Homo sapiens: one gene and its partners. The protein of the gene in region 6 interacts with the protein of the main gene of each other region in a biochemical or structural test. Each region holds a gene or a part of one and is shown on either strand. Other genes may lie near its edges.

The links.
Region 1: the proteins of PDZD4 (region 6) and FRMPD4 interact in a test that uses a peptide from one of them, tested with the Homo sapiens proteins (one large-scale study listed by IntAct).
Region 2: the proteins of PDZD4 (region 6) and ABCC4 interact in a test that uses a peptide from one of them, tested with the Homo sapiens proteins (one large-scale study listed by IntAct).
Region 3: the proteins of PDZD4 (region 6) and DGKZ interact in a test that uses a peptide from one of them, tested with the Homo sapiens proteins (one large-scale study listed by IntAct).
Region 4: the proteins of PDZD4 (region 6) and ARHGEF16 interact in a test that uses a peptide from one of them, tested with the Homo sapiens proteins (one large-scale study listed by IntAct).
Region 5: the proteins of PDZD4 (region 6) and DOCK4 interact in a test that uses a peptide from one of them, tested with the Homo sapiens proteins (one large-scale study listed by IntAct).
Region 7: the proteins of PDZD4 (region 6) and DGKK interact in a test that uses a peptide from one of them, tested with the Homo sapiens proteins (one large-scale study listed by IntAct).

The regions. Positions count from the first base shown.
Region 1 is NC_000023.11:12,715,473-12,718,972, reverse strand, and holds part of FRMPD4 (FERM and PDZ domain-containing protein 4), read right to left. Parts: intron 2,905-3,500; coding exon 1,840-2,904; intron 1,473-1,839; coding exon 183-1,472; intron 1-182. UniProt on the Homo sapiens protein: Positive regulator of dendritic spine morphogenesis and density. Required for the maintenance of excitatory synaptic transmission. Binds phosphatidylinositol 4,5-bisphosphate.
Region 2 is NC_000013.11:95,291,452-95,294,951, forward strand, and holds part of ABCC4 (ATP-binding cassette sub-family C member 4), read right to left. Parts: intron 1-3,500. UniProt on the Homo sapiens protein: ATP-dependent transporter of the ATP-binding cassette (ABC) family that actively extrudes physiological compounds and xenobiotics from cells.
Region 3 is NC_000011.10:46,371,463-46,374,962, forward strand, and holds part of DGKZ (diacylglycerol kinase zeta), read left to right. Parts: intron 1-24; coding exon 25-141; intron 142-241; coding exon 242-313; intron 314-612; coding exon 613-708; intron 709-965; coding exon 966-1,048; intron 1,049-1,154; coding exon 1,155-1,215; intron 1,216-1,308; coding exon 1,309-1,422; intron 1,423-1,498; coding exon 1,499-1,639; intron 1,640-2,694; coding exon 2,695-2,773; intron 2,774-2,936; coding exon 2,937-2,992; intron 2,993-3,141; coding exon 3,142-3,204; intron 3,205-3,303; coding exon 3,304-3,377; intron 3,378-3,471; coding exon 3,472-3,500. UniProt on the Homo sapiens protein: Diacylglycerol kinase that converts diacylglycerol/DAG into phosphatidic acid/phosphatidate/PA and regulates the respective levels of these two bioactive lipids.
Region 4 is NC_000001.11:3,468,165-3,471,664, reverse strand, and holds part of ARHGEF16 (rho guanine nucleotide exchange factor 16), read right to left. Parts: intron 2,786-3,500; coding exon 2,729-2,785; intron 2,233-2,728; coding exon 2,072-2,232; intron 1,666-2,071; coding exon of another isoform or gene 1,584-1,665; intron 1-1,583. UniProt on the Homo sapiens protein: Guanyl-nucleotide exchange factor of the RHOG GTPase stimulating the exchange of RHOG-associated GDP for GTP. May play a role in chemotactic cell migration by mediating the activation of RAC1 by EPHA2.
Region 5 is NC_000007.14:111,744,900-111,748,399, forward strand, and holds part of DOCK4 (dedicator of cytokinesis protein 4), read right to left. Parts: intron 2,545-3,500; coding exon 2,368-2,544; intron 1,519-2,367; coding exon 1,435-1,518; intron 1-1,434. UniProt on the Homo sapiens protein: Functions as a guanine nucleotide exchange factor (GEF) that promotes the exchange of GDP to GTP, converting inactive GDP-bound small GTPases into their active GTP-bound form. Involved in regulation of adherens junction between cells.
Region 6 is NC_000023.11:153,804,106-153,806,544, forward strand, and holds part of PDZD4 (PDZ domain-containing protein 4), read right to left. Parts: intron 2,029-2,439; coding exon 1,966-2,028; intron 1,502-1,965; coding exon 1,400-1,501; intron 1,103-1,399; coding exon 992-1,102; intron 796-991; coding exon 1-795.
Region 7 is NC_000023.11:50,464,326-50,467,825, forward strand, and holds part of DGKK (diacylglycerol kinase kappa), read right to left. Parts: intron 1-3,500. UniProt on the Homo sapiens protein: Diacylglycerol kinase that converts diacylglycerol/DAG into phosphatidic acid/phosphatidate/PA and regulates the respective levels of these two bioactive lipids.

The DNA of each region.
Region 1 (3,500 bases), about 140 Mb from region 6:
TTTATAATCTTTAGTATTTATTAAATACCAGGGGATCAATGATTGGTACTTTACAGTTCTGTGGCCTTTTAAAATTCTACCTTTTACTTTTCTTCCAGACATTACGTTTTTAAGTTTGTTGTAAATATGGTTTACATGCTCTTGGCATGTCATACAAAGTGCTAAATCCATCATTGCTGTACCTGTGGTTTCCTTAATCTTGGGGAGCCGATGGCATCCATCTCTCAATGTGCCAAACAGGGGTTCGGTGTTAATGGCTGTGTGCAGAGCAGGCACTGTCATCCGTGGACACATCCCTTCTGTCTGTGGGTGCAGTTCCTTAAAGGTGGCTCCGTGGTTGGGAAGCCCAGGGGCTCTCTCCTCTGAAGGAATGTAATTCACGCCTTTCCCAGAAGCGTCAGGAATCAAGTGCTTCCCCAGGGAGGGGCAGAGCGGCGACTCCACGGGTGTGGCACAGGCACTGCCACTGCTGCCTGTGCCACAGCCTGCATCCACTGAAGAGCCTTGGGAGCTCTGCAGAGAAAAATGGCCCTCGCTTTGCAGTGATGACATCCGCTTGGCCAAGTGGTAGTCACAAAGGCGGGCCACACTCTCATCAGCCTCAGGAAGCTTGGAAGGATGGTCGCAGGTGGACGAGTCAGCGTCCTCTGGGTTATCTAAGTCTTTGGCTGAAGATGCACAGGTCACGTCAGTTAAGAAGCGGTCCCCTTGACCAAGTCCTGAGCCATCACTGGTTTCTCCATCAGGAGCTCCTTCTTCCTTCCCTTCGGCCTCCCTTGCCCCAAGACCAGAAGCTCTTGGAAAGGTTTTCCCTGTTGCTGCTTCTAATCCACTTTTTTCAGCCATCCCACCTTCAGTGGCCACATACCATCTTTGACTGTCCTTGCGAAAGGCAGTTCTCTCCAGATTAAAAGTGCTCAGGTGTTGACTGTCTCGTGAAGACACAGTACCAAATTTACCACTGGCCTCCTCCTCCATCTCTGCCGTTTTGGTCCCCTGCTGTTTTTTTCCTGTTGTGTTCCCATTAGGGGGTGCCTTCCCCTCACCATCGGCCAGCTTGCTTTTCCTTTTGCTAGTGCAGGAGTATGCCACCGACCCCATGTGCAGTTTGCTAAAATAGTCAGTGACCGACTTAGTCTCCATAGTTTCAGGCTCCATCTCCATGTGGTCTGAGTGAAGTAACTGCTTGGAAGGCACAACTTTGGGCGGGAGGTCGGTTGCTGGCCTAGCAGCCAGGGCGTGCGAGGACTTTGGAGGCAAGCCCCCAGCGGGGGTCTTGGAGGCCGGGAACTCGGTCTGCTCTTCTGCAAGGGGGTGGTAGCCTTCGTGAGTGGCCAAGAACATGCGGGAGAGGTTTTCTGACTGTTTTTGTGCTGTGGCCAGTTCAGAACTCTCAGTCATTTCAGAAGAGTTAGTTTCATTGCCCGAGTCTGACGAAGACTCAGGACTATAAGCCCGCAAGATGGCTACACCTGCATGCCGTAAAAAACAAGAACTGATTAATGGATGCATCAGAGGCACTTGGAGACATGTAAGAAAATGGGACTCGTTATTACTAAAACAAAATACCAAGTTTTTCCCTTTTCAGTAAGGACTCTGAGTTTATTGCAGTTTTTCCAGAAATGGGGGTGGGGGGAGATGTGCCTTATGTTTTTAAAAAAAAATAACAAAGGAAATCACATACACACAAAAAAACCCATGATGGCAGTTTCAGCACATTTATGAAATGGGACATGTGTGAAATGGAGAACACCACGTAACAGGACTCCAGGGGCAAATGGCTTGGAAGGATGGAATGATATGGTTATCAGTGAATGAATGTAACAATTGTGAAAGAACCTGAATTGTCACTGGTCTGCTGTTCTTCTGACACGGATAGAGCCTCTAGAGCTCCCAGCGTGGAGACGACGGCATTATCCAGTCCCTTCTCACACTTGCCTTCGGCGCTGGTGGGCACAGCGTCAATGAGGGACACGGGGATCTCATCATTTTGCAGGCTGCTGCCTTTCTCCTTGTCCTCGGGGAAGGAAGCTGCCTGGCTCTGAGAGTCCTCTTCATCTGAACTGTCTCTAAAGCCAGGTGGGGGTGCGGCAATGGCCATGTTCAAGGAACGCAACAGGAAGTCATCCTCATTGTCATCACCTTCTGGAGGGGGCAGGGATGTGAGGTCAATGATGTCATCGCTTGACCCAGACAGGTTGAGGATGGCCGGCTGGTTCATCTCCCCCACCACGAGGTCCTCCTCGCAGCTCACCTCGTCCTCGTCCTCCGCGTCATCAGTGTTTTCTGCATAACAGATGTCATGCAAGAGGGGTTCCTCGATCCCCTCCGCGGCCTGGAAGCTCTTCACATCGCCTATGTTTGCATAAACAGAATTTTCCACAAACTGGATGCCCTCTGCCTCTGGAGTGAGATCCAGGCCCTTCATGTCATTGGCACTGCCAATGTAGAGATTTCTCTGCTTCTCCAGCATTTCAGGACCCTCATCTAGTAGCGTTTCATAGCCAAGGGTTGGGGGACTAATACCATCATCCAAGGCGAAGTCTCCAAAAATAAAGGACACTTTAGCTCCTCTCGGAGATTCCTGTGCTTTCTTCAGAGTTTCTGGTCCTGAGAGGGTCAATAGGGACCGCTGAGCTAGACTTCTGTAGTCTGCCTCACAGGGGGCCTCCCCGGGCTGGCTCAGCTGCTGGTTAAGTCCATCTGAACTATAGGCATTGTCTATGTACAAGTGCCGGTGCTCTTTTGGACACATGGTGCTGTCTGTGATCTCCACCGTCTTCTGCTTTGAATCTATGTATGTTATCTGGGCTTCTTGTTCCCCTTCGCCAATAAAGGTGGTCATTTGGGGTATACAGTTCCAATCTGGGCCAAGGAGGTTATGCTTCCCCTTGTTTTCAGGTCCTAAAGAGAAAGAATCACGCAAAGACACATTACTGTACTGTCTGGTTTTGGGTGGGGCGGGGGTGGGAGGCTCGTCTCTGTTTTTTAACTTAATGGCTTGTAGCATCACTTATGTAAATACAGTTTTTCAACTACCCAAATATAGTACTTATTGATTTAGGCTTCAGGTGTAAGAATTCCTTGGGTTAGGAGAACCGACCTTAACAAAATTGATACTGCATAAACTGTAATTGCTATTTGATAAAATGTAATACCATCTGGGGGTAGGGAAGTATAGCTTAATTCCATCTGACCCTTGGTTCTATTATTAAAAGGCTTCATTCATATCTACAAATGTAAATATACAACATGTCTTTTACCCTTAAAGGTGAGATTTCAATAGGCCGTTATTCCAGAACATTAATTGTTCTTTTCCTTGTAAGGTGAGATTTAATATTCCCTACTTCATGGAGGAAGATATTGAGTGTTTTCCTCATTGAATTCAGAGACGGTCAAGGATCGTCAGAGTTTTACCATAGTTTTTAGGAAATTAAGATAAATGTTGTAATGATAGTACAAAACTTCTATCTTCAGTCTTTTGATATCCTAGTGGATGT
Region 2 (3,500 bases), on a different chromosome or scaffold from region 6:
ACACTTGTGGCCAAGTTAATCTAGCAACCACAGTGTTGATTAGTGGATCTGCCACAACCTAGAGGACATTCCTAGGACCCATCCTTTCTAGCATTCAGACTACGAAAGTGTTCCAAGAACTTTCAACAGCAACAATGAGCTGCTAAACGTTAGCATCTACAAAATGAATTTGCATAGGGATAGAAGAGCAGTTACATGGGGACAAGCCCTGCGGACTGTGAGGTCAATTGGCCATGTGTCCAATATAGCTCAACTGCATGTATCACTGATGATGCCCAAATTGACATAAACTTCCTGACCACATTGGCCAACATGATGAAACTCCATCTCTACTAAAATACAAGTATTAGCTGGGTGTGGTGGCGCGTGCCTGTAATCCCAGCTACTCGGGAGGCTGAGGCACGAGAATTGCTTGAACCAGAAGGTGGAGGTTGCAGTGAGCCAAGATCATACCACTGCACGCCAGCCTGGGCAACACAGTGAAACTCCATTTAAAGAAATAATAATAATAAGATAAACTTCTCCATGAGCCCCAAACTCATGACCAATTGAATGCCTATTCAACATCTCCACTTGAATGTGTAGCAGGCATCTCAAACTTAACAGGGTCAAAAATAAACTCCTGTCCAGGCACCATGGCGCATGCCTGTAATCCCAGCACTTTTGGAGGCTAGGGCGGGAGGATCACTTGAGCCCAGGAGTTCAATACCAGCCAGGGCAACATGGCAAAACTTCATCTCTACAAAAAATATAAAAAATTAGCTGGGCATGCTGGCACACACCTGTGGTCCCAGCTACTCAGGGGGCTGAGGTGGAAGGATGGCTTGAGCCCAGGAGGTGAAAGTTGCAGTGAACTGAGATCGCACCACTGCAATCCAGCCTGGGTGACAGAGTGACACCCTGTCTCAAACAAAGAAACAAAGATTTAATGTGGCCATGATAGCTGTCTTTGAATACTATGAGGCGAGCATATGAAGGGAGGTAGCCAACTTGCTCTGCGTGTTGACAAAAAAACAAAGGAGAGCGGCTCTGAACCTATTTTGGTTCTAGGAGCTGCTTGATTCACAGATCATTCTTTGCTTCATTAAATTCTGTAATGCTTTTCTTAGAAGTAAGTAAACACAAGTAGAAATTGCATGGAAAGAAAACTGTGGCTCAATACAACATAATTCTGGCATTCGAATCTAAAGTCATGAGAGTCACATAATGCATTTCCCCACTGCCCAGTATCTGGAAGGGATTCCTGTACTGAGTGTGGGCTAGAAGATCTCTTCCTTTCAACCCACTAATTCTATGACACTAAGGAAAAGGGGAAGATAGGAGCTAGCGCAGAGAAAAGAGCAGACAGGGACTAGGCCTGAAACAGACCAGCACGGAAGTGGTCATGGAACCCAGAAATGGAACAAGGAGCTACGTCGCAGGCCACAAAAGGGCTGTAAGTACTCATGAGTAAGGGGCTGGAAGTGGGAGAAGCAAAGTCTGAACATCTGCTGGGATGAAAGAGGGGAGGGCAACCTTGGGTGTAACAAACGCTACCGGCTGGCAGGGACGACATAGCGACTGAGGGGTGGTCATTCGCCACACGTCTCAGGCAACACTTTCTCCAACTGCAGTTCTGTGACCTGGACATCTCATCCCCTGCCAGGAACGATTTCCCACCTTCTCCATCCAAGCTCCAACAGGAAGGTAAACCCCTCCCCAGAGATCTCCATCTTGGCCAACATGGCAAAACCCTGTCTCTAACAACAACAAAAAAATTAGCCAGGCCTGGTGGTGCACATCTGTAATCCCAGCTACTTGGGAGGCTGCGGCAGGAGAATCGCTTGAGCCCGGGAGGCGGAGGTTGTAGTGAGCCGAGATCATGCCACTGCACTCCAGCCTGTGCGACAGAGACTCCATCTCAAAAAACAAAAACAAAAACAAAATCCCCACCCTCACACAGCTTTTCCATACTTCTACTCCAGCACACCCAACACGGGTTCAGGATGAACTCCTGCAGCAGCGACTGCTGGACACACGGACTATGTTTTTTTGAGATGGAGTCTCGCTCTGTTGCCCAGGCTGGAGTGCAGTGGCGTGATCTTGGCTCACTGCAACTTCTGCCTCCCGGGTTCAAGCAATTCTCCTGCCTCAGCCTCTCGAGTAGCTGGGACTACAGGTGCATGCCACCACGCCCAGCTAATTTTTGTATTTTTAGTAGAGACGGGGTTTCATTACGTTGGCCAGGCTGGTCTTGAACTCCTGACCTTGTGATCCACCTGCCTCGGCCTCCCAAAGTGCTGGGATTACAGGCATAAGCCACCGCACCCAGCCTGGACTACGTTTTCTTTTGCTTTTTTTTTTTTTTGAGACAGAGTCTCATTCTGTAGCCCAGGCTGGAGTGCAGTGGTGCAATCTTGGCTCACTGCAGCCTCCACCTCCTGGGTTAAAGCGATTCTCCTGCTCGGTCTCCCAAGTAGCTGGGATTACAGGCATGTGCCACCATGAAAGAAGGCAGGGTGCCTTCTTTCTTGCCAGGTGCAAATCCATTACAATAAAGTACCATTCCTGTTCTCAAAGAGCTCACACAATGAGGGAGGCAGCCACTGTATCGTGCAAATAATGCTAGCTATTAAACAAGCCCTGATTCTCAATGGCTTAATTCAAAATCACCAGCCGAGGCAGTGGATCACATGAAGTCAGGAGTTGGAGACCAGCCTGGCCAACACAGCAAAACCCCTTCTCTACTAAAAATACAAAATAAATAAATAAATAAAAAATTATCCGGGCGTGGTTTTGAGCTCCTGTAATCCCAGATACTTGGGAGGAGGCTAAGGCAAGAGAATCGCTTGAACCCGGGAGGCAGAGGTTGCAGTGAGCCGAGATCACGCCACTGCACTCTAGCCTGCAAGACAGAGATAGACTCCGTCTCAAAAAAGAAAACAAGAAACCAAGACCATGCCTATTGTCATGCTATAGTCCCCTTTTGGGCCATCTAGGGTGGTGAACAACACCATACATTTACTCCTAGCTGGACTTTCACCATCTTGCGGCTCGGCCTCCTCTCAGTCCTCCTCCTCTCCAGGAGGCCTCTTTATTCAGCTGGAGAGGCGTTGCATGGGGCTGGTTTTTGTGTTCCAGTCGTGGAAGCGAGACACCTTTTGCAACCACTTCCTATTGGCCAGGTCTCAGTTTCATGGTCACCTCTGACCACAAGGTTGGGGTAGAAAACATAGTCCAGGCTGGGCATGGCGGCTCACGCCTGTAATCCCAGCACTTTGGGAGGCCCAGGTGGGTGGATCACCCGAGGTCAGGAGTTCAAGACCAGCCTGGACAACATGTTGAAACCCCATCTCTCCTAAAAGTACAAAAAATTAGCTGAGCATGGTGGCGCACATCTGTAGTCCCAGCTATTTGGGAGGCTGAGACAGGAGAATCGCTTGAACTCCGGAGGCAGAGGTTGCAATGAGCCGAGATCACGCCACTGCACTCCAGCTTGGGCAACAAGAGTGAAACTCCAT
Region 3 (3,500 bases), on a different chromosome or scaffold from region 6:
AGCCCGGCCCCTCGCTCTCCTCAGTACCACAGCAAGGTGTCCTGCTTCATGCTGCAGCAGATCGAGGAGCCGTGCTCGCTGGGGGTCCACGCAGCCGTGGTCATCCCGCCCACCTGGATCCTCCGCGCCCGGAGGCCCCAGGTGAGTACTGCCTGCACCCTTGATGCCCCGTACGCACTTGGGGTCTGCCAGCTACCCCAGCCTGCCCACCTCGTCACCAACACCCCTGCTTCCCTTGCAGAATACTCTGAAAGCAAGCAAGAAGAAGAAGAGGGCATCCTTCAAGAGGAAGTCCAGCAAGAAAGGGCCTGAGGTCAGCCCCAGGCTGGGCAGAGGCTGCAGGGGAGCAGGAGAGAGGGGTCTGTTGCTCAGGGTACAGAACTTCCACCCCCAGCTAATGCTGCCAGCTGGTGGGGGTCTGTGTGGGCTCTGGGGCCTCTGAGGAAGGCAGGATTAGATGCCAGTTTCTGCTCTGTGGCCTGGTAAGATCTGGCCCAGAGATGGTACGTGAGGGTACAAAGAGGGAACAAAGTCACCCAGGGGGCCTGCTAAGGATGATGGTAGGGTGTCCTGGACGGGAAGGAGCTTACAGCCTCTCACCTTGTCTCCCAGGAGGGCCGCTGGAGACCCTTCATCATCAGGCCCACCCCCTCCCCGCTCATGAAGCCCCTGCTGGTGTTTGTGAACCCCAAGAGTGGGGGCAACCAGGTGAACGCGGCCTTGCCTCTCAGCTAAGGGCTCGGGCGGGGGTTGGGGTCCAGCCCGTCTGCCAGCAGCTGTTCCCAGAGCCCGTTTCTGGCTTCTACCCCAATCCCTCTTTCCCAGGGATCCTGAGAAAATCCTGTCCTTTCTCCACCCCTCACCCCTTATTGGCCCTGGTTCCCACAGTCACACCCCTCTCCCTCTGCTGCTCCCACTTCGTCCCACCACTGCCTGACTGTCTCTTGGCTCCCCATCCCATCCAGGGTGCAAAGATCATCCAGTCTTTCCTCTGGTATCTCAATCCCCGACAAGTCTTCGACCTGAGCCAGGGAGGGCCCAAGGAGGCGTAAGTACTTGCCAAGGTTTTGTGGGGGACATGGGGGGGAACTTGCCTCACTCCTGGGGTACAGCACACATCCCCTGACCCCACTGCCATCTTCCCATGAGCCCAGGCTGGAGATGTACCGCAAAGTGCACAACCTGCGGATCCTGGCGTGCGGGGGCGACGGCACGGTGAGCTCCCCGCATGGGCCAGCCGAGCACCAGGGCTGGGCCTGAAGCCGGGGTCCCTGTGGGCCTGATTTGCCTCTGTTCTTCCTCCCCCAGGTGGGCTGGATCCTCTCCACCCTGGACCAGCTACGCCTGAAGCCGCCACCCCCTGTTGCCATCCTGCCCCTGGGTACTGGCAACGACTTGGCCCGAACCCTCAACTGGGGTGGGGTAAGCACCCATAGGAGGGGGGTGCAGCTGGGGCCTCTCCAGCCACAGAGGGCTCAGTCCCTGCCTGCTCCCCCAGGGCTACACAGATGAGCCTGTGTCCAAGATCCTCTCCCACGTGGAGGAGGGGAACGTGGTACAGCTGGACCGCTGGGACCTCCACGCTGAGCCCAACCCCGAGGCAGGGCCTGAGGACCGAGATGAAGGCGCCACCGACCGGGTAAGTTGGCCAGGGTTGGTGGGGGGCAGGGCAGGTGACTGGGGACTGGATCCCACTTTTCCACTTGCTGGTTCTGGGACCTCGGGCGTGTCTCTTCATTTCTCCAACTTCCACTTCTTCCTTGTACGATGGGAATAATAGTACTTGCCTCACAAGATGCTGTTTTTTCTGTGTTTTTTTTTTGTTTTTTTTTTTTTTTTTTTGAGACTGAGTCTCGCTCTGTTACCCAGGCTGGAGTGCAGTGGCGCAATCCCAGCTCACTGCAACCTCCGCCTCCCAGGTTCAAGCGATTCTCCTGCCTCAGCCTCCTGAGTAGCTGGGATTATAGGCAGGTGCCACCACACCTGGCTAATTTTTGTTTTTCTGTTTTCTTTTTTTTTTCTTGTTTTTTTTTTTGTTTTTGTTTTTTGTTTTTTGTGACAGAGTCTCACTGTCACCCAGGCTGGAGTACAGTGGCACAGTCTTGGCTCACTGCAACCTCTGCCTCCCGGGCTCAAGCTATTCTCCTCCGTCAGCCTCCTGAGTAGCTGGGACTACAGGCACCCGCCACCACACCCGGCTAATTTTTGTATTTTTAGTAGAGATGGGGTCTCACCATGTTGGTCAGCCTGGTTTTGAACTCCTGACCTCAGGTGATCCATCTGCCTCGGCCTCCCAAAGCACTGGGATTACAGGCATGAGCCACCACGCCTGGTCAGAAGATGCTGCTTTATTCCATAGACATGCACTGAGCGCCTGCTACCTGCCAGGCACTTCTCTAAGCAGTGAGCAAAACCAAGCCTCGCTGTTGTGCTCCACATGGCATGTCAGGAAGAAGTGTTAGGGGAGCTGACAGGGAAGAGATGCTGCAGGCACGCAGGGAAATCCCCCAGGAGCCACCAGGCAGAGCAGGGCTGTGCCTGACAGCGGGTGAGCTGGGCTGAGCCCTAGCGGACGCTGCTGACCAGGAAAAGCCTGTGAACAGATGGGCTGAGCTGGCTCGGCCACACGAGGCCCCTGGAGCGGGGACATTTGTGAGGCCCAGCCCTCATTTTGGTCCCTTGACCTTTTTCCAGTTGCCCCTGGATGTCTTCAACAACTACTTCAGCCTGGGCTTTGACGCCCACGTCACCCTGGAGTTCCACGAGTCTCGAGGTTGGCAGCCTCCCACTGAGGCCAGGGCAGGGTGGGCACAGGAGTGTCCCCGGGAGGGTCAGACCCTGCTCCCGCCAGTGAAGGCATCCATCCCAGCCCTCCCCCAACCCCACCTGGGCAGGCTGGGGTGACTCACTGGCCCCCACTGCTTGTCTCCACCCAGAGGCCAACCCAGAGAAATTCAACAGCCGCTTTCGGAATAAGATGTTCTACGCCGGGGTGAGTGGGGTCTGCACCCCCGCCTGTGCCCACCTCTTCTACCACCCGTGCCCGTGCCCACCTGTGTCCACCAGGCCCCAGGAGCCCTGCCGGGTGCTGGTGAGGAAAGATCTCTGTCAGCAGATGGTGACGCCCTCTGTCTCCCACAGACAGCTTTCTCTGACTTCCTGATGGGCAGCTCCAAGGACCTGGCCAAGCACATCCGAGTGGTGGTGAGCGGGGCCAGGCTGCCGTGGGTGGGTGGGCCGGAAGGGAGGGAGGCGGAGGCCACCTGGCACATGCACCTCAACACCCTCCCCGCCCGCCTCCAGTGTGATGGAATGGACTTGACTCCCAAGATCCAGGACCTGAAACCCCAGTGTGTTGTTTTCCTGAACATCCCCAGGTGAGGAGGGGGCTACCGGAGCTGGGGGGAGCCCTGCTGTCCTTGTCCTGCAGAGACTGTGTTTTGAGGCCCATGTCATCGCCCGCCTTTGCAGGTACTGTGCGGGCACCATGCCCTGGGGCC
Region 4 (3,500 bases), on a different chromosome or scaffold from region 6:
CAAACATGCAGCTGCCTGAGGCAGAGGGGACCGGAGGACACAGAGCTCAGAGAACACAAAGCCTGCCTGGCTGGGGGCAGAGCTGGGGGAGGGGCAGCCGCTATCCCAGACCCCTCCCCCTCCCCCAGCCCCATCCCATGCTGAGTCAGAGGTTGGGAGTTTCCCATAGCTGGTCCCTGGAGCTCTACAGGAAGCCCCTGTCTCCAGGGACAAGGCGGCTCCCTGCCCACCCTCAGGGCCCCAAAGTTCCGCAAGGGCACCCCACAGGCAGCAGATGGGTGGGACTCGCCAGGGGCGGGGCTGATATAAGAATGCGCCAGCAACCACCACTGTTGGGGCAGCCCTGTGCCAGGCACTACAGGCCCCTAATCATCTCCCAGCGCCACCCAAGCCCACGAGGGGACCAGAGGCACCGCCCCTCAGGTTAGCATTGAGGCTGAGGCTCAGGAGACTCGATGCTCCGGGGTCCTCCTGCATATAGGGAGCAGCACAGGGTCGAGACCACACATACCCCTGCCCAGGCACACACACCCACGCACACACACCCCTGCCCAGGCACACACACCCACGCACACACACCCCTGCCCATGCACACATACCTGTCCATGCACACACACATCCCTGCCCACGCACACACACCCCTGGCCAGGTACACACACCCACGCACACCCCTGCCCACGCACACACACCCCTGGCCAGGCACACACACCCACGCACACCCCTGCCCATGCACACACACCCCTGCCCACACACATACCCCTGGCCAGGCACACACACCCACGCACATACACCCCTGCCCACGCACACACACCTGTCCACGCACACACACCCCTGCCCACACACACATCCATGCACATACACCCATGCATACACACCAGGGTGCCGGATGCTCCCGAGCCACCCTCCGGGCCTTGGGGCCAGCCCACTCACACACACCCCTGACCACGCACACACAGCCATGCACAGACACCCTTGCCCACGCACACACACCTACTCACATACATCCCTGACCACGCAGATACACAGACATCCCTGCCCACGCACACACACCCACTCACACACACCTGACCGAAAACACAGCCACTCACACACACCCCTACCCACTCACACATAACCCTGACCACGCATACACACCCCTGCCCACGCACACACATCCCTGCCTGTGCACACACCCGTCCATGCACACACATCCATGCACACACCCGCGCACACACAACCATGCATACACACCCCTGCCCCACACCCATGCACACACACTGCTGCCCAGGCACACAAACCCATGCACACCTACACACACACATACCTGCCCACGCACACACAACCCTGTCCACACACACCCGTGCAGACACACCCGTGCAGACACCCCTGCCCATGCATACACACCCTTGCCCATGCATACACACCCCTGCCCCCACACACCCATGCATACACACCAGGGTGCTGGATGCTCCCGAGCCACCCTCCAGGCCTCGGGGCCAGCCCACTCACACACACCACTGACCATGCACACACAGCCATGCACAGACACCCCACCCCACACACACACCCACGCACACACACCCCACCCCACCCCACGCACATACCCCCGTGCATGGCTGCAGCTGCATGTCCAGCCTCTCTACCTCCAGGCCCTGCAACCAGAGCTCAGGTCCAGCCACCAGACACCTTTGGGTGGAACATGACCCAGAGCTGCAACTCGAGGCTTCCTGCCTACAGGTGAGCAGCTTGTGGCCACCACTGCCTGGATCATGCAGCCCTCTGTGCCTGGACGTCCTGGTGGGGTGGTGCTTGGCAGTGGGGCAGGGTTGTACCCCTGGGAAGTGCTCCACGTCTTAAGAACGACCAGGATGCCACAGCCCCAGTGCTTAGCCCGGCCCTGGGGCCAGCTCTTGGTGGCCTCAAGGACCCTCAGAGGTCATCACACTCCGCGGGAGCCAGCAGCTGCTCTAAACCATCCACATCAAGGTGCAGCGCAGGCTCCCAGGGGCCTGCTGATGACAGTGCGGTGCCCACGGGGGGAGGCACCTTCCTGGCAGAGGACCCTGTGTGGAAGGCTGTGGCGTGGCCTCACCTCTGACTGGCACCCAGGACATCCAGGATGTTGGAGAAGAGGTGGTGGTGCTCCATCTGGGTCACGGTCGCCCGCAGCTCCTTGGACTGCAGGAACTCCTCCACCAGGATGCTCAGGCTGTGCTGGTAGGAGAACTCCGACGTGAGGATCTCGAACATGGCCTGTGGAGAGGGGCCTAGGTGAGCCCCACAGTGACGCTGGACACGGGCGTGCCTCGGTGACCAATGCTTGGAACAGGAGGACGTGACCCGGGTGGCAGGGGCAGGTGGGGACAGGAACCCCAGACACACCCCTGGATGGGGCTGTCAGAATGGCCAGCTTGGAGATGCCAGCCCGACGTCCCTGGATGCCCCTGGCTGGGTGCCTTATGAGCCGGCTGAAGCTGGGCAACGACCCCCGTCCTTGTCAGAGAAGGGGGTGATGGCAGCCCCTGGACTCCGAGGATTCACCCGGTGACGTGAAGGGGCTCCGTCAGGGCCTGGCGCAGGTGGAAGCACAGCCCGGGGCTGTGTGAGGCGCTGGTCAGCGTGACAGGGCCTGGCACTGGAGGTGGCCGCAGAGGGATGGCTGGGTGGTGCCACCGTGGCTGCTGCCCCTCCCCGGGTGTTGCATGGCCCAGGCCATGGGGGACAGCCCTCCCGCCCAGGGCCCTTTTACCTCCTGCCTTTTCCGCTCCTCAGTGGAGAGCTGGTCCAGGATGCCCAATTCCACCACCTGGGGGGACACAGGCCCAGGAGCTCTCGGTCACACGTCCTAGAAGCCTGGGCCAAAGTCTCCCTTCTTTCCTCCTCCTGATGGACCAGGGCCAACATGGACAGCCACCCCACAGGGCTCAGGTAGGTCCGATCCTGGAGTAGGCCTGTCCTGCCGAGGGCCTATCCCCGTCACCTTCCTCTCTGTGTAACCCGCCTTGGGTCAGCCCCCCGCTCCCCCCAGCCGCCAGAGCCCCAAAGCAGCCCAGAAAGAGCATGGGGCATCCAGAGGGAGAGGCCAGAGGGCGGGGGGGGATCTTGTCCCACAGATCTTCCCGGCAGATGGAGAGGTGCGGAGCCCACCCAGGGAGGGAGTGTGGAGGGCAGGACTGTGACTCAGACCCCACCTGGGCGAGGCGAGTCAGTGCCCTGCCTGGAAGCTATGGGTGACGCTGTTTCCGCCCGGGCTCCCTCCTCCTCGGGGCCCACAGCTGGCGGGTCGCCTTGGCGGGAGTGTGGCTCGATTGGTAGAGCACGTCAGGACCAGGAGGGCTGCCACACCGCCCAGGGGTCCCCTCTGCAGGACTCAGGCCACCCTGATTCGTGCTCTGCTCCTCACTGGGCTGGGCAGAAAGGCCGCCAACAGCGCCTGGGCCAAGGGTGAGTCCCCCATTCCCCAAACCAGTGCCTCCTTCCCATGCAGGGTCGGAAACTCTGGCAGTTACCAGGGTGCGGTA
Region 5 (3,500 bases), on a different chromosome or scaffold from region 6:
GGATGAAAACCAGACACGACCTCATTTTCTAATCCAAAGAGCATGCTTTACTTATTAATTTGGCATTATTGGGTAGAAAGAAATGCCTTTGTCATGTTTCATCACACATATTCCACTTTTCACAGGAAGCAAATGTCTTTATTTCCTGTTTAACACAGGCTTCCAACCATGTCTCCTACCTCAGAGGTTTTCAAACCATTTCAGGCTATCAATAGGGACACAGTAGGCAACAGATTACTCATTCCAGTTCTTTGTACTTGATGGTTCCAAATAAATAAACCACGCTTCTCTGGGGGTAGAAAATGATGAGTTGTATGTAGTTTTGTCCATATCATGTAACCTATAGGTTTACTTTGCAAAATATGACACTGCTTTAAAGCAAGATCTACTGATTGCCCACTTCCTTATTACAATGCTTAAGTAAAAATTTCATTCATGCCTCATATTTGGAGTTGGCCTGAACTTTTCTGAGCACAGAATTTTGAGTGAAAAGTTGGCATCGGCCAGGCGCGGTGGCTCACGCCTGTAATCCCAGCACTTTGGGAGGCTGAGGCGGGTGGATCACAAGGTCAGGAGATCGAGACCATCCTGGCTAACACAGTGAAACCCCGTCTCTACTAAAAATGCAAAAAAAATTAGCCAGGTGTGGTGGCGGGCACTTGTGGTCCCAGCTACTTGGGAGGCTGAGGCAGGAGAATGGCGTGAACCCAGGAGGCGGAGCTTGCAGTGAGCAGAGATCATGCCACTGCACTCCAGCCTGGGTGACAGAGGGAGACTCCGTCTTAAAAAAAAAAAAAAAAAAAAAAAAAAAGTTGGCATCAAGCCTACAGCAAGTCTCTAGGAAGAGAACATTCAAAGAATGTTTTAAGAGACCACATGAAGTTGTTTGTTTCACAGGTTGAACATCCCTAATACAAAAACTGAAAATCAGAAATCCTCCAAAATTTGAAGCCTTTTGAATGCCAACATCCCACAAGTGGAAAATTCCACACCCAACCTCACGTGATGGGTTGCAGTCGAAACTTCATGCACAAAATTATTAAAATATTATATAAAATGACCTTCAGGCTATGTGTATAAGATATATATGAAATAATAAATTTTGTTATTTGACTTGGGTCCCTCCCCCAAGATATCTCTTATGTATATGCAAATATTTCAAAATCTGAAACACTTATGGTCCCAAGTATTTTGGATAAAGGATACTCAACCTGTAACTGGCTGCCATAGTCTACTCATTGTTAAATTAATTTTTGCATCGGAGTGGGAAGAAGAAGTAGAAATTAGCAAGCTGGGATATATTACAGGAATCTGTCACCCTTGCTTGCCAGCTTCTGTTAGACCACTGATGCAGGAAACCATGCAGAGGGGGCTCTAGGTAAGCAAGCACATATCCAGGCAAAATAGAAGGGGGTTGGCTTCTGCTTCCCTTACCTGCTCAAGCATCAGCTCTCTTAATCGTGCAATTTTCTCCCCATCTTCAGGGTGACTTAAGATATATTCTTTGACAAAGAATGCCTAGTAAGGGAAAGGAGAATCAGTCTACTTTAGTGGAGTACAAGGCAAGTCAAAGACAAGTTGTTTTTAAAGACCTGGCATCTTTATGGAAATGACACCATTACAAACCACATTTTGGGACAGATGGGCTGATTACTAGTGTAGGTGGTTGGTCAGAATGGGAACATAAGGAAAGAATTGTTAAAGGAAGATCAGTGATTGTACAATAAGTACCCTTGCTAAAATAAAGAACAAGCCCAAATCAGTAAGCTATATGGCTTGTATCCTAAAACAAACTGCCTTAAGATTCAGTGTGACCTAGATGGTGGCCTTACCTTCCAGGGTATTATATCTTTCTGTTTAAGAGAGCAGATGAAAGGTCCACTTAAAGTATCATCTAAGCAAGATCGGTCTTATCTTTTTTTTTTTTTTTTTTTTTTTTTTTAAATAAGAGATAAGATCTTCCTATGTTGCTCAAGCTGGTCTCAAACCAAAGTGCTGGGATTACAGGTGTGAGCCACTGAGCCCAGCCCAGATCAGACTTTTCTATGCCCATGAACTTCTTTGCTTAGAGAAATTATTTTAGACGGATATTTATTAAACAGTCCTAATGTCCTTTCTACTTTTATTCATGCAAGAATGAACACACACACACACATTTTTATTATCCAAATATAACATGTTGGGAAAATGGAGTTACTGGGCAATTACAAATGACTGTATGTTTGCTCTATTTAACAAAGGACTCTGTGTCAATCGCAGCCCTATGTTTGCGTGCTGATATGGGTACATAGTCTGAAAAAAGATTCATGAAACCCTAAGAAGTCACAATTGAAAACTTTCTCTGAAACAACAATACCTAATCCTTACCTCTTGATACCTGGAAACGCCACCATTAACTGCAGCATCTATAACTCCATTCAGGCACATAGTCAGGGGATTAATATTCTGCATCTGTCTTGTCTGACACTGACTAATCAGAGTCTTCAGCTGCTGATTCTTATTTTCTAGCACTTCAATTGCATTTTCCAGAGGACTCATTTCTACCTGAGAAGCAAATGAACATAAATATATATTGAATTTGTGACATTCAAGAAGAAAGACAAAGTAGTTTATCCATGTTCTGAATTATCTGTGCTCCCCCTTGGCTTCCATCAATATCTCTACCAGGGGCCATTCCGTAGAATAGACAAGGATGTGGAAGTCAAGTGGGATGTTCATTAGCAAGGTTTGGAAAGGGCAGGTAATTATACTTATTCATTGAAATGTGGTTTGGATAATCATCAATTCTACATTAGCACTGCAACAACCAATTTAATCCTTAAAATAATATCCAAGCATCTCATGTCTTTTAAAACTAGTTTTTTTTTTCTTTTGAAGGGTTAAATATTCAGAGACCCTGAATATTATCCCCTTTCTCATGCTTATTTGATACAAAGCACCATGGGAGATATAAAGATGCATTTATGGATCCTCTGATGTCAAGGAGCTTTCAGCCCAGTTGGGAAGATGGGACATATGCCACATGAACCTCATATATATATATAACAGCACCATAAGGTGGCACAGGATGGCACACAGTTGGGAATTATAGAAAACAAGATAATATATACTGCAGGATCTATTTGTTGGAGAGCCAAATAGAATCATAATGACTTAAAAATTCCAGGCTGTATGGAGGACCTAATTGTGAAAATGATAAAAGTGCTCTTCAAATGTATGTCATTGGGACTGCTATTGCCTTGAAGAGAAGGTCTGCCAAGCTCTCAGCAATCAAGTAATTCAGGACTACAATTAGCATATTTAAATATTGGTTCATTCAGGCAAGGAAACAAATTAGAGTTTTTAAAGGTCACTTGGATCATCTTAAACCAACACTGAAAAATCCTAGAATATGAAGACTGAACATTCATCAAAGACAAAGAGAAGGGAAGATAAGCAAGAACATAGAAGATTTTGTAACATGTGTAACCATCAAAAAGCACGTGTTCAGGGTATATAAG
Region 6 (2,439 bases):
AGGAGCTGCCTTGGCGGGGGTGGCAACAGCGGGGCCGGGAGGGGTCCGGTTCAAGTTGGAGTTGCCGGCCATGGCCCGCCGCAGGGGGCTCTCGGGCAGGGGCTCCACAAGCAGCGGGGTGCTGCGGCAGCTCTCCCCAGTGTTGTAGGCGCTGGTGCTGTCCTTGTCCGACTTCTCGGGCAGCTCGGAGATGTCGGACAGCTCGTGCTTCTTGGGCTCGCTGGCCGCCAGGTCGTAGAGGCTCTCCTCCTCCAGCAGCCAGGCCTTCATGCAGCGCTCACGCAGCTGCTGCATCTTCTGCGCCCGCAGTATGTTGCGGCACTTGAATTCCAGGTGCCTTAGCTCCTCCTCCAGCATGGCCATCTCGTGGCCCAGGCTCTCGTTGCGGTTGACGTCCAGGGCGCTGTTGCCTCCGGAGGCCCGGGGAAAGAGGAGGCCCAGCTGGTTGCCGTTCTCCAGGTGGCACTTGATCTCCAGGAGCTCACGGTAGCGCTCATACTCCTCATCCGTGAGGCCCGGGACGTCGCCCCCTCCCAGCCCCGCCCCCTCGGCCAGCAGAGAGTCCATGCTGAAATGGAAGTCCCGGCTCTGCAGGGCGTCCCCTTGCAGGCCAAACTTGCGCAGGCTTCCCGGGGTGTTGGTGGAGCTCGGGGGTTCGTCCCCCAGCAGGTCGTGCTCAGAGCTCTCTTCGTTCCGGGTGCTCTCGTCAGTCCGGCCCACCCCGCTGTCCAGCTCCTGGCTGTTGCTCAGGCCTGGGCCGGCATCGGGAGCCCCCTTCTCCTCTTCGTTTCCGGGCTAGAGCAGAAAGGTAAGTACCGCTCAGTTAGGTCCCACGGACAGGGATGTCACGGGATGTCACAGGAGGATCGGAAGGGGCTTCAGGCCTGGTTCATTTCCCTGCCAAGCATTGGGAGACCCTGCACAGCCTCAGCGCCTTCCACCCAGTTCTCTCCTCCTCGCCCTCCCCACCAGCGCCCTTTTCCTTCCTCACCTGCTGGGCAGGGGGTGATTTCAGTTTACGAGCACGCAGCTCCCCCTCATTCTCAGAGCCAAAGTCATCCAGGAAGTCATCCCGGTCGCTGTCCTTCCACCTTTTCGCCAGCTGTGGAGACAGGCCCTGGTGTCCCCACAGCTTCAAGGACCTCCCCATATACCCTTCTTGTCTGCTCTGGACCCCGCACTTGGCTTGTTTCGGTGAAGCTCAGCAACCTGGGGGCAGCGTCCCAGCCCCCTCAGCCTTCAGAGGCCAGGAGGGGAAACGGGCCCTGAGAGACCCCTGCCCACCCGCCCTCCATCAACTCCAGGTCGTTGGCACATCTGTGCCCTAGTCACGGCCAGCAGCTTCCAAGACAGAAAGCCTGATGTCGTGGCCCCGGGTCGCCCTGCCAGGCATACACACCTGACTCTCAGGTCGGGCCACCAGCAGGGAGATGTTGGTGTTCTCTTCCTGGCTCAGGATGGCCACCGCCTCTTCCCGGTTCTGGACGTCTACACCGTTAATCTGAGGCAGGCAGGATACAATCAACAAGCATGCTAGGGCTGGCCCTGGGGCGGACCCTGGGCGGGTGCAGGGAGCCCAAGCACTCTGGGCTCGGCTGGGCTAGGCTGGGGCTTGAGCTCTGGGAGGATGTAACTAAGTGGAAGGTACCAGGGAGAGGGCGGCCTGACTCTTGCAAGAGCAAATGTGTGCTCAGGAGAGCATGGAGTGGGGCAGAGGGAGAGGGGCCAGGAGGTTTCAGAGCAGCAGGGGCCCTGGATGCCAGCAGATCCCATAGGCACACGGGAGCCACTGGGGTGAGTGGGCAGGAGAGAGATGAGACTCAGCCCGGGTTTAGGACACGGCAGGCTGCTGGGCCTCAGGGTTAGCTCTTAGTGGGAGAGAGCTAGGGACTGGCTAAAGAGAGGTGGCTGGGCCGACGGGCACAGCGGGGCCTTGGGCCAGGCCTGCAGCCTGCAAGTGCTCACCTGGATGATGCGGTCTCCCTCACGGATCCGGCCGTCTTTGGCTGCAATGCTGTTGGGATTTACCTGCAGGACACACGCATCTTGGGGACTTGGTGCCTAACATGCCCTTTCGGTAGAAGGGGGCAGGCTCACCTCAGGGGCCCCCAAAGCAAGCTGAAGGCTCTCTGGCTCCCCTTCCAGCTCTGAGCCCCAGGAAGCAGAGGCAGAGGCTGTGGAGTAGTCACCTCTCCCCGCCCCTGCCCTGCACTCCTAGGCTCTTCTGCACGGAAGCCTGTGCTTTTGGTCAGCCCCGGGCATTGGTGGGAAGTAGGACATTGTCCATCTGGAAGGGTGGCTTTAGTGGGATGCTACTAGTAGGGAGGGGAGCGAGGGGCCATCCCCCTCCTGGGGATACACAAGACATCTGCCCAAGATGGGTTCGGGAGAAGGCTAGACAGCAACCCTGTTGCTAGTTCTCAGGCCCATCTGCTGTCC
Region 7 (3,500 bases), about 100 Mb from region 6:
TTTATGCTCTTTAGTCATGGAGGAGTGGTATTTCTTTTGTCCCTCCCTCCCGCACCCCCCGCGCCCCTGCTTCTTGGAATTAAAAATTCTGGAGATTTGGTATAGTCAGGGACCTATCCTTTAATATTTCTTTCTTTTTTTAATTAAAATGTGTGTATCTAGAGGGGAGGATTCGTAAATTTCATTAACTTTTATGATTTTTGAGAATATCTGCCCTTAAAAAGATTTCCTTTTTTTGTTTGTTTTCCTTAATTTCTTTTTTTTTAATTGAAGGGGTGGCAAATAAAGGTTATTATCCTTGGCGAGGTTGAAGATCCTTTAAGAGGATCTCCCTTTCTTTTAGTTCCTTTTTTCAATTTTGTTTGTTTTTTGTTTTTGGGAGAATAATAGGTCTCTTATCTTGTGGTTAGAGGGATGGTATCTTTCTTTGAACTATTTTTAAAAATTGAGATGTAATTTACATACCATAAAATTCATCATCTTAACATACACAATTTTGTGGGTTTTATTGTATCCACAGTGTTGTGCACCCATCACCATTCTCTGATTTTAGAACATTTTAATCACCCTCAAAAGAAACCCTGTACTCTTTAGCCATCATCCCCTTTTCCACCTCCCATATTGCTTCCCTCATTTCCTTTCCATCTCTAAGGATTTGCCTCCTCTGCACATTTTATGTAATCGGGAAAATAATGTCAGGAAGCTTTGATGAGGTTGGGGGACCTTCCCTTTATTTTTGCCCCCTTAATTTTCTCAAGAGATTAAGCATGAGCCATGAAGTCAAATAAAGTTTACAAATTTCATGAATATTTTAAGGTTAGAAATACTGTTTAACTTAAGATGATTTCTCTTTTTTCATCTTAAAATTTTTCTTTGGGGGATATAAGTTCCATGGGCTTTGATGAGGGTGAGGATAACTTCCTTTTAGAAGCTGTTTCTTTTTTTTTCTTAAAATAATTTTCAGAGGAGAGATAAATTTCATTATCTGGGGTCACTGTCCCTTTCTTTTCGTTTTTAAAATTCATAAATTTGTTTTTATTATTTTGAGAATGAGCTCTATTTGCTTTGGTGAGGGTGGGGCATCTCCCTTTAGAATGGCTGCTTGCTTGCTTTTTTTTTTTTCCTTTAAAATTATTTTTTTTCCACTGAAAGAATTACAGTGGGTGGGCTTTGGAAAGGTCGGGCACCCTATCCTTAGCAGGATTTCAATTTATTTCCTTTACAAAACACACACGCACCAACAAAAAAGGTCTTTGTGAGTAATCGGTTCAGGGTCTCTGCCTCTTCTCGTTTCTTCTCTGGCTCCTCTTCTATGCTGGCCCCCTCTGGGAGCATCAGAAGTGGAGCAGCAACCACCGCTTTGGAAAAAAATTCAGAGCTGATGAAATGTCAGCTAAAAGACTGTTCTTAGACAAATGAGGATCCTATGTATCACAAAAGGCCATATGTCAGATTTTTAAAAAAATCTACAATAGAAAATTCAATCATTACATCCTATAAGCTGTCAAGTTTTATTTTTGCCCTCCCCCACCTGCTGCCTTGTTCAAGGAAATAAAAGGGTTAATAATGCAGAGGCAAGCACTCTGTAAACTGTAAAGTGCCACAGGAGCAGAAGGAACTATATAATCCTTATTAGAATACCCCTGAATGGTTTCCTGGTTTCTATGGATATTTTTTTCTTTTTCTTTTTTCTTTTTTTTTTTTTTTTTTTTTTTTGCCTTTCCTTGGAGGCACTTTCCCTTTGGGCTGCAGATCTGCAGAAGCCCTAGTCGGAGATTTTAATAAGTGCATAAGAATTGTACTCTGAGAAACTAAAGACCACTGACCAATACTTCATTATCTTTTCTAGAACACCCTGTAGTGACTGCTTAGGAACTATTAGAATACACCAAATAAATCAGATGGTATCATCAAAGCTTGGCAAGGAGGGGGGAAAAACTGAAGAGAAAAGAAAGTAATTTCATTCTGACCTTCAACAGGTTAAACATCTGAATCTATAATCCCAAATCTGTTTACAGTCACTGCAGATACTCTGTTCACTTAGGAAAAAAATTTATTATCCCCTGAAGCTAACAATATCATTATTAGTCTGCTGCTGCTGGGACTGCATGGGATAAGGACACTTTCCAAGCCATTAATAAAAATTGTTAGTAATTTGCTTCTTAATTATAGTTCCAATAACCACTCTGAAAATGGAAAGATTGACTGTATTTCCTTAAGGGCTATATATTCCATGCCATTTAAATAAGTATTTACTTCTCACTCTGAAACCAATGAGAACAAATTTTTATTCATTCACAGCAGCAGCCTCTACATTGCTGGAAATGGATAGTTTTCAAGCTTCAGCAAGTGTTTATTAAGCAAAATCAAGGAGGGCTGCATTGAACTAGGCACTGAGAAAGGCCACCCCTATTTTTGAGAAGCTCAGAAATCACTAATAAAATATTGATAGGAATCACCAGATATCATATAAACAAATGCTTGCTATTTTGCAAGAAAATGTACAAAAATATCAGTTTTGTGCATAAAAGCTGTCCTGATATGGTTTGAGGATAATGGTTATTACTGTGCAGTCATCAGGAGGGATACACAGACCCCTTTTATCTCCCCCAAAAGCCATGAAAGTGTATCTCCCCTCAGATTTTCATCAATCATTTGTATGATGTGATTTTCATTTCATAGCTGGTCAAAACCCAATGAATAAACAAAATTTTGTCTTTCTTCAAGCACAGCTGATGAGAGAGAAAGAAACATGGTCTACTTCATATAAGCCCCATCCCTCCCCCAAGAGAGTTATAGCATTGCTAAAGAACCAATTCACACATCCTTACTTACACTTGCTGCCACCAGGTGGGAGACCATGGCTCATTTCCTGGGAATTGAAACATTTTAGAAAGGAAAGAAATAGACATGTTTGGTTCACAGACTGACTGTGTTATCCTGGTAGCTATTTGAAAAGAAAACATGAGCCCCCTTTTCTCAGTCAATTGCAGGTTCTGAAACTTTCCTGAAATTCCAAAAAAGAGCAGACTACAAGGCTGAAAGATGTTGGTTTTTTGCTACAATACCAGTCAACAAAATTATCTGGGAGAAACTTGCAGTCATATTCAAACACTTGGTTTTGCTCATTTCATCCTTTGAATTATCAGGATAGTTTCATGCTTGCTATGGAGGATTTCATTGCATGATGAGACCTGTATTTTGTTTTGTTCCCTGACATTTTGGGCACATATGTATAGTATGTGTGTGTGTTAGGGGTGTGTGCACGCCTGTGCGTGTTGCACAGTTTTTTCCCCCCAAGCTTGCCTCGAGGAGGCAGTGTTTGAAAACAACATCACCCCAGCTAAGATGACAACCTGTTTGCCTTGAATGTTAAGATACAAGCCAGCTGGTTGCAGGTGCCATTTGTCTGAGGAAGATGCAGGAGAGAATGATCCTATCACTGAAGATCAGATGTTCCCAGCTGCACCAGAGAGCAATTGCATAGCAACATTGAGGGT